2 separate regions of the Homo sapiens genome follow, and region 1 is linked to region 2. Evidence: fine-mapped expression QTL. A gene starts in region 2. The other region holds a variant in brackets. All regions are shown on one strand. Distances are between the middles of the regions.

The links. PIP is the estimated chance that this variant, and not a neighbour inherited with it, causes the effect. A credible set is the group of variants that fine-mapping cannot tell apart.
Region 1: its variant is the best candidate, but not a certain one, in a credible set for the expression of DCAF4L1 in whole blood (INTERVAL, PIP 0.80).

The regions. Positions count from the first base shown.
Region 1 is chr4:41,878,450-41,882,832 of GRCh38, reverse strand. LINC00682 (long intergenic non-protein coding RNA 682) reads left to right here and starts at 222. Exons shown (of 2, transcript NR_104143.1): 1 at 222-353; 2 at 2,020-3,312. RefSeq lists enhancers at 768-1,519, 2,272-3,024. The variant C/A (reference allele first, on the strand shown) is at 2,622.
Region 2 is chr4:41,979,480-41,983,862 of GRCh38, reverse strand. It overlaps DCAF4L1 (DDB1 and CUL4 associated factor 4 like 1), which reads right to left and starts at 2,107. Exons shown (of 1, transcript NM_001029955.4): 1 at 1-2,107. The coding sequence starts at 2,070. The coding sequence ends at 880. RefSeq lists enhancers at 845-1,617, 1,177-2,376.

The DNA of each region.
Region 1 (4,383 bases), 100 kb after region 2:
TAGGAGATCTGTAATATATGTTAAAATAGTTAATTTTTTATTATCTCTTTGTTTGGCGGCAGCCCGGCCTATCCGAAATTACCGGAGCATCAACTGAAAATGTAGGCAATGTAAGCAATGTTAAATCTAATTTTTCTGTCCAAAACCTAATTAGCCATTTTAAAAAAGGTTAACGCCAGCGCCTGAGACGGTTTTTGTTTAATAATCCTATTACTGACGGCTCATCATGTATAAAATGGTGCAGTAGGATGCAAAATTTCCACTTGTTTATAAGTGTATCGCCGAGAAATGTATAAAATAATCGAGACCGGCGGAGGCAGGTCAGAGCCGTCTGGAATGCGCGCACCTTCAACGTAAGTAGCCGGCGCGGCCGCTCAGGGTTCGAGCCCCCACCTTGGCCGGGCAGGGGACACCTTGGCCGGGCACCTCCCGGGCTTCCGACAAAAAGGCCTCGGACTTTATTTGGGCCCGCGTTGGATTTCTGGCGGAATCGCCCTCGGGGTCGTTTGGGTTTGGAGGCTTCCGCCTTGCAGGGGGTTTCACAGGGTTGCAGCCTCGCTCGGGCCCAGGCCAGTGCGGATACTCGGGCCAGGGCAGCTTCGGGTTCAAGGAGGGTCGGCTTCTGAGCCGCTGCGACCGCCGCCCCCGCCCTGCACTGCACCCGCCTCCGGGGGTGGGGGAGGGGTACTTGCCGCGGAACGGGGTCTCCGAGGACCCTGGCCCGGAGAACGGAGGGAGAAGAAGGGACAGCAGTGAGGGCCGTGCAGGGCCACCCCTAAATGCCCCTCGACCGGCTCGCGTCCTGCCAAGGGCAATGTGCAGAAGCCCTGGGCGCGGGTGGAGTGGGACAGTTCTGGAAAATTCTGGCCCTTCTGGGGGTCTGGGATAGTTGGGAAAGGGAGAAAATGGGGCAGGGCGCCCAGGGGGCGGGGGCGGGCGCTGGGCTCGGTGGGGTCTCCGGGGAGCAGCCGTTACTCCTGGCGCCCCCCGTCCGCCTTTAGCGATGGTTTGGGAACCCGGGCGCTGGAAAGGCGCGGGTGCGGAGGGCGGCTGAGCCGCGCGGCTGCGGCACCGTGGGCGCGAGACCCCTGCGGAGAGGAGCGCGCGGACGCCGGGGGAAGCGCCTCGGGGCGGCTGGAGGCGCAGCACCCTGGGGGAGCCGGGGCGCGGGAGAGACAAAACTGTTCGAACCTTCTCTCCCTTCCCCACCCCCAGCGCCCAAACCCGGGGCGGGTGAGCGCGACCCTTGCAGCGACCCCTTGCCGAGCCCTGCCCGCGCGATTACTAAGGAGACGCGGCCTCCGGCACTGCCGTCCCCGCGCCGTTTGAAAACGGATCCATCAGCGGGTACCGGGCGTTTAAAGGGATCTTTCTGAAGGGACTTGTGGGAAAGGACAAAAGCAGGCGGCCCCATTCAGCTGACCAGTCAAAGGCGCTAAATGGGGACATCAAAAGGCGCCCTAACTGGGAATACGGATCCAATCGCAAGAGAAAAGAACCTGGTTTCTTTTCTTGGCCTCAACAAGGCTGAAAAGCCGTAAAGCAAATAGGCAAAGAATGCGGAGAGGGGCAGAAAGGAAAAATAAAGAAACAATCTCATGAATGCATTTTTCTGAGGCTTTAAATGAGAGGAGTGACAACTTCCTAGGCGCCGTTGGGGGCCGGGGTGCGGGGTCCGCCGCTGCGCGGACCCCCTCACCGAGGGAACCTCTCCCGCTCGGGCGCCCTTGCTGTTTCCACGCGCTCCTAGGCAAGGTTCTTTTTGTGGGTGTAATCTTTGTTCTTATTTAAATGCCTAGGAAGGGAAGGGAAGGGAATGGAGGATAAGGTAGAGAAGGGAAGGAAAGGGAAGGGAGATGGGAATGGAATGGGAAAGTAGGAAAAGCGGGACGCGGCGCGAAGCCCAGGTTTCCCATCAGCTTTTCTGCGGTCAGATTACGCTCACTAACACCCGAGCTTGTTATCTGACCTGGCCATCCCCGTCACATTCTTTCTACAAGTTATCTTTTCTCCAACCAGGGTATTTGGAGATTATTCGCACTGAATTTTCTGCCCGCCAAGAACGAATAGGATTGCCAAGCCACACCACTTTTTGGAGCCCGCTTATTCGCGCCTATCCACCCTCTCCTGTGCCCCAGGTTCCCTGAGCACGGGAATCCTTTCCGGGCATGGCCAAGTTTGTTCGGTGGCTCAGAGCGGGAAGGGAAGTGCAGTTCGACACCTGTCCAGCTGCTCCGCTTGGAGATCAAAGGCCGGCTATGGGCTGAGCGACAGATTTACGGGACGGTGGTACAGATTAAGGCGAGAACCCTGCCGGTCCTGGACTCGAGTTCGCACCCAAGGAAAGCGTACAGGTCCCTGGAAGCGGGTGGATGTCGGAGAGGCCGAGGCAGCCTGCGCTGTGGCCAGGCAGGCTTGGTGGGCTTTAGTCTCAGTATGTGTTCTTTAAAGTCTTGACAGGTTATTAGTAAAGGAAGGGGCACCCCAGGGTCATGAAGATGCTTCTCGCTCTGGCCCAAGCATGCTGAGGCTCGCTTATTCCTCGGCCAGGCCCAGTAAAACAGCTCAAGCACAGCCTGGAGTCTTCCCGCATCTGCGCGGGAGTAGAGTCTGGCTTTGGG[C/A]CCCGCGTACCCCGCAGTCGTCGGGGACCAGTTCGAGGCCACGGGAAGGGTTTCCGCGGCAGGGCGCGGAGTAAAGAGGGGAAGAAGGAATCCTCTCCGCGTGATCAGTAGGGCGGGCTTGTGATACTCTCACACCCAGGTTCCAGCTCAGCCCCCAAACTGCTGCCCCAAGAAAACAAGTTGGGGAGTGTGGATTTAGACATAACAACGGGTGTGAGCTGATGTCCTTACAACCAAAAATATTGAGACTAGAAATTCAGCTCCGAATCCACGACCCTCAGATTGATGCTTAATCGCACCCTCGACTCCAGAAAAGCTGCCGGGGACAGACATGGACAGGTTTTGCCAAGGGTTCATTAAAATAGTCTGCACTGGAATAACCGGGGTGCAAGAGATCACGTCTTCACTCAGGGCTTTGGGGATCCCCTCGTCGCCCCAGGTCAGTGGGTGGGGAGGAGGGCAAACTTCTGTCTTTTGTTTGTGGGTGAGGGATGCGAATTGTGGCAGCAGCCGAGAAAAGGGGGGAAATTAATTGCAGCCAATTAATAATTAATCCCCTTTAAACAGCTTTATTATCTCTTCTGGGCGACAGAGATTTGTCTGATAACCCCCTGAAGACCAAATGTCAAGTTTAACCAAATAGTTATTGCTTTATCAACCCGAGTCTGCAAATAAATTAATCAAAAGCAAATCTGTCCTTTGTGCGGCTCATTTGCTGGTAATGGATGGATATGAAGATTTGCCGATATTATTGTCTGTCATTCAATCTAACAAAGTGAACATTTATTGCATATATATTAAAAATTATCCCGGAATCGAGTGGCGCCGGGTTGCATTTATTGGAGTCTTCCCAGGGGTGAGGTCCCCTCGGATGGGGGCGCGTGGGATAGAAAGTGCAGGAGCGCGAGTCTCAAATCTCTTTAGGACTCTGTGCCTGCCTCTGTCCCCCTCCCCGCAGCGACCTCCCTCTATCCCCTTCCCTAGCCTTCGCCCCGGAGCCGCAGGACGTGCCTGCAGCCTCCTGTCGCGCGGCCAGGGCCAGCGGGGCGCGGGGAGCCCAGCTACTGTCAAAACAGAGTCCTTCAGCCTTAAGCACTCACAAGGGGTCCGGCCCTAGGAAATGTGGGGAGGGGGTGTGATTGAAGAGAGAGAAACGGGAGGGGGACAGCTTTCCTTTGTCTTCTCTCGAGTTACATCATTTTCTAATTAGGCATAAAATTGTCTTCATACACTGGTATTGCGGCCTTCATAAACATCGCCATTATGGTTTATAAGGACGCCATTGTGGTGAGGCTGTCCCAAAATAGAAAGAGCTGGGGAGGGAGAGGCCTGGAGTCCGGGAGGCCCCGCTTTGTCCTCCCCTGGGAGAAGATGGATGGCCAGTGTCACGCAGATGATGACTTGGGACTATTAAATTGTCAGAGGGGGGCAGAATCTTTACCAGCCCCCAGCGCTGGTGGAAAATTCTAGAGGCAGGAGCCGGGGGTTCTTGGATGGGAGGGGAAGGCCGGGCAGCTGGATTCGCTGGGCAGGTGGAAAAAGAGGTAAGTTAGTCGCTGGCAGAGGCAGAGCGGAGGGCAGTGGGGGCCGAGGCTTTGATCTCCTCCCGGGGCACCCTGACTTCGCTGCTCTCTGAGCTCAGGGCCACTGGATCTGGAGCTGACCTCCCACCCGATCCCCATCGCCAAGGTTGGGAAACAAGCAGGGCTAGAGAAATGAGAGGGGCAGCGAACCCGGAGGAGCGGCGGAGGGCTATGCCAGG
Region 2 (4,383 bases):
ATCATTTCCAGGCTTTGGCTATTAAGAAGTAGCAACTAACCTTATTACACGTTTTTTTTCTTCCTTGCTTAGTAGAAAAACAGGCTCTTTAACATTTTTAATAAATCTCTCACAAACTGCTGCTCCTAGATTACAAAAAGTCAAAGCCAATTCCTTGAATCTGAACTTCAAGTCACCATAATAGAAACCGGAGCTGCTGTACCTTACATTCTGAAAGGTACCTCAACAAAAGCACATCAAGGACTGTTTAAAACTTCTAGTATTTAAAAAGATCCATCTTTCCTTCCAATGCCTATGGATGATAACAATAAAAGGAGAACCTTAAGAGATCTGCTATTGAGTTTGAGAAGGCCAAATTTAATGATTCCAAACTCCAGCCTTAAATATTTCTGTAGAGACTCTGAGAAATTACCTCTCCCTTGTCTCCACTCCCACTGGCTTCCTCAAGCGCAGATGCCTGGGACCCTGTATGATTAGTCAAACAGTCTTACCAGTACCATCATTATGCTTCTCTAAAGGGCTACTAGTGAAAGAAGCTGCTTTAATTTATTTTAGTTTTTGCCAATCTTCAGTCCTTAGAAAAGTCTTAATTATTTAAAAAAAAAAAGGGTTGGGGAGGTGGTTAACTGTTCTAAGGCATTCAACAAGAGGAAACAGGTACCTTTTATGAAAAGGACTTTCAAGTTAAGTCCACAGTTTAACTGAAATAACTTTACAAGAACGTCTCCACATAAAACTCTTAACACCTTACCCCTGGCAGCCGGATGGATGCGATCTATATACAACACGTCTCTTAAAATGCTCTCACAGAAACGGTAATAAGATACTCTTAACTTCCTTAAGTCAAATCCACATTCGGCCGCGCTGCCACCTGCAGAATTAGCTGAAGGGGAAACAATAAAGGTCCTGCCGGACAGCCATGAGCAGCCCTGGTGCTGCTCCCCGGATGCCCCCGAGCCGAGAAGCGAAGGCCACGCTGGGAATGTCGTCCTCGGAGGCAGAGTACGGGGAAGGGATGGTTCTGAGCAGGTGGGCATCATGGAGGCTCCAGATTCTCGTGTAGCAGTCCTGGCCCACTGCCACCACGATTCCCTCTTCCTCGTGCACATGCAGGGGCAGATAGGCGGACTCATTCACGTGACCTTCGTACTGCCTTACACATTTAGTGGCCCTCAGATCCCACAGCTTGATCTTTCCAGTCATGTCTGATGCCATCAGGCATTGCTCTTCTTGGAGGATTTGCACAGAGGTCACTGCTGAGTCATGGAACAGGCGAGTGGCCCTCCACCCCTTGCCTCGATTTCTACAACGCAGATCAATGGCAAAGATCTCCCCGGAGCGACAGCCATTAAACAGCAAAGGAGCCGTACTAGCAAACTGCTGGGCCAAGACATCACTGCTGGTATCAAATGACTGCTGGTGTCCCGTCGCCACGCTGGTCAACAGGACCTGCTGAGACAAGCCTGCACTAAAGCAGTGATATGCCCGGGTGTTGAGGGACCACGCACAGGACCAGGCCTCTGGGATCTGGAAACTGCAGAGCATGCCAGGCTGGTTAACTCTTGTGTGAACACTTAAGAACCGCGACGCTGGGAGCAGCACTGCACAGCTTGGAGCATCTGTGATTCCCTCGAAGCACAGCAGAACGTGAGAGTCCAACTGGTTCAGCGAGGCCCAGCACAGGGACTTCACCTTCCGGTTGGGGACGTAGAGGTTTCTGAGCACGTACACGTGGAACGAAGGGATCTTCAGAGTTCGCAGGCTGATGATGCCGTACTTGGAGCCTTCGACTTCGACCTGGTTCACTACGAAGAGCTGGTCGCTGTTGGTACTCGCCAGAATGAAGTTAAATCGGTCGCTCGCCAAAGAGGAGGGATCCAAGCTCCGAATTTGGACCTTTTTCCGCTCCATGCAGCTCACACGCAGCTCGTTGGCTAAACGGGAGTAACTGGTGACGTTGAGGAAACCTAGCTGGCTTTTTCGGAGCATGGAAGATGCATTAAATCCCATTCTGGCTACCTTTTTCAGCTTGGCCTCTTCCTCGAGGAGTCGCAGCCTTTCAGCCTCCATTTCCTCCTGCGGAATGTTCCTCGTGACAGGAAATTCTGCAGGATGTTCTTCTCCGTGACAGGATGTTCTTTTCCGTGACAGGAAGTTCCGTCCGGGTGCAAGCGGAAGTGTTGCTACTTTTTATCCTCTCTATTCTAGGAGGAAGTCCATTGTTACAGATGTGTATTACAAATCTCTTTTCCTACTCTGTGGGTTGTCGTATTCTCTCAGTGGTGTCTTGATGAAAGGAAGTTCTTGATGTTAAATTTTTTCCTTTCTCTTTTTGAGACAGGGTCTTGCTCTTTCACCCAGGCTGGAGTCCAGTGGCACGACCACGGCTCACTGCAGCCTGGAACTCCTGGGCTCAAGTGATTCTCCTACCTCTGCCCTACTTAGCTGGGACTATGGGCTCACAACACCATGCCAGGCTACTTTTTTTGTAAAGATGGGGTCTCCCTGCTTTGCCGATGCTAGTCTGGAACTCTTGAGCTCAAGCAGCCTGTCCGCCTCAGCCTCCCAAAGTGCTGGGATTACAAGCATGAGCCCACGCGCCCTGCCTGTATTTCTTATTTTTTTATTTTTTATTTTAAGACGGAGTCTCGCTCTGTCGGCCAGGCTGGAGTACAGTGGCGCGATCTCGGTTCACTGCAAGCTCTGCCTCCCACGTTCACGCCATTCTCCTGCCTCAGCCTCCCAAGTGGCTGGGACTACAGGCGCCCGCCACCACGCCTGGCTAATTTTTTTTGTATTTTTAGTAGAGACAGGGTTTCACCGTGTTAGCCAGATGGTCTCGATCTGCTGACCTCATGATCGGCCCGCCTCAGCCTCCTAAAGTTCCGGGATTACAAGCGTGAGCCACTGCGCCCGGCCGCCTGTATTTTTAAAATACAGTTAGAGACCAGCCTGGGCGGCATGGTGAAACTTTGTCTCTAAAAAAATACAAAGATTAGGCCGGGCGCAGTGGCTCACGCCTGTAATCCCAGCACTTTGGGAGGCGCAGGCAGGCGGATCACGAGGTCAAGAGATTGAGACCATCCCGGCTAACACGGTGAAACCCCGTCTCTACCAACAATTAAAAAAATTAGCCGGGCATCGTGGCGGGCGCCTGTAGACCCAGCTACTCTGGAGGCTGAGGCAAGAGAATGGCGTGAACCCGGGAGGCGGAGCTTGCAGTGAGCCGAGATCGCGCCACTGCATTCTAGCCTGGGCAACAGAGCAAGACTCTGTCTCAAAAAATAAATAAATAAATAAAATACAAAAATTAGCGGGGTATGGTGCACACCTGTAGACCCAGCTACTCAGGAGACTGGGAGGGAAAATCACTTGAGCCTAGGAGTCTTGGAGGGAAAATCACCTGAGCCCTGAAAGTTGAGGCTGCAGTGATCACCCCACTGCACTCCAGCCCAGCTGGGAGACAGAATAAGACCCTGTCTCAAAAAGAAAGAAAAATAAGTAAATAAATTATGAATTTATCCAAATTGTCCATTTGTTTCATTAATGGTTAGTGTCTTTCATGTTCTGTTCAGGACATTAGTACCTATTACATGATACTAGTAAAGTTTTGGGGTGTCTTCAAGAGGAGGCTGATATCTCCAGTCCCCATCTGGATGTTTCCTTTGCCACAAAGCTTGCTGACTCCCCTTACGCTATGAATTTCCAGGAATTTTGGAGGACTGGGGAGAGTTGGTAGGGACTACAGAGAAATCCGGTGATATCTGGACTATGGATCCTGTCGGAATCTACAGGCCCCAGAGCTGGGATCACAGAGAGCACAGGAGATTGAGGCCCACACACTTGCCATGGAACATAACATGGGACAAGGGATTTCTATGTATCAGAAGAATGTGTTTCACCACTGCCAAATGGAAGTCAGCTGACAGATGCAGAAGTCTTGCAAAGGGCTATCAAAGCATAGAGGACTGCTTGATACTGAGTTATCAGTGGGGCTGTTAGGAACCCCATATATTCTAACAATGACCTACAGAAAGCAGATAGCAACATGGCGGCAGTCAGACATTTAAGGCATTGCCTGTTTTCCTTCTTAAACCTCCTGACCCCACCATCGGAAGAGCAGGCACATGGAAAAAAAGGGGTGTGTATAAAGAAAGTTGGAACTACGGGTCTAGTCTGCTCTGGAAGGCATGGAGGAAGTTTTTGAAATAAATATGAGACTAATATTTTAAATCAGTAGGACCTAATCTTAATACCTAGAATGAAAGTTTTAATAACTAAGGAGGCTGATACTTTGAAGCAATGAAATCTGACAAAATACCAAGTGTAGAAATGATGAGACTTTCAAGCTTATGCCTCTTGAGGTGAGATTCTCAATCAAAC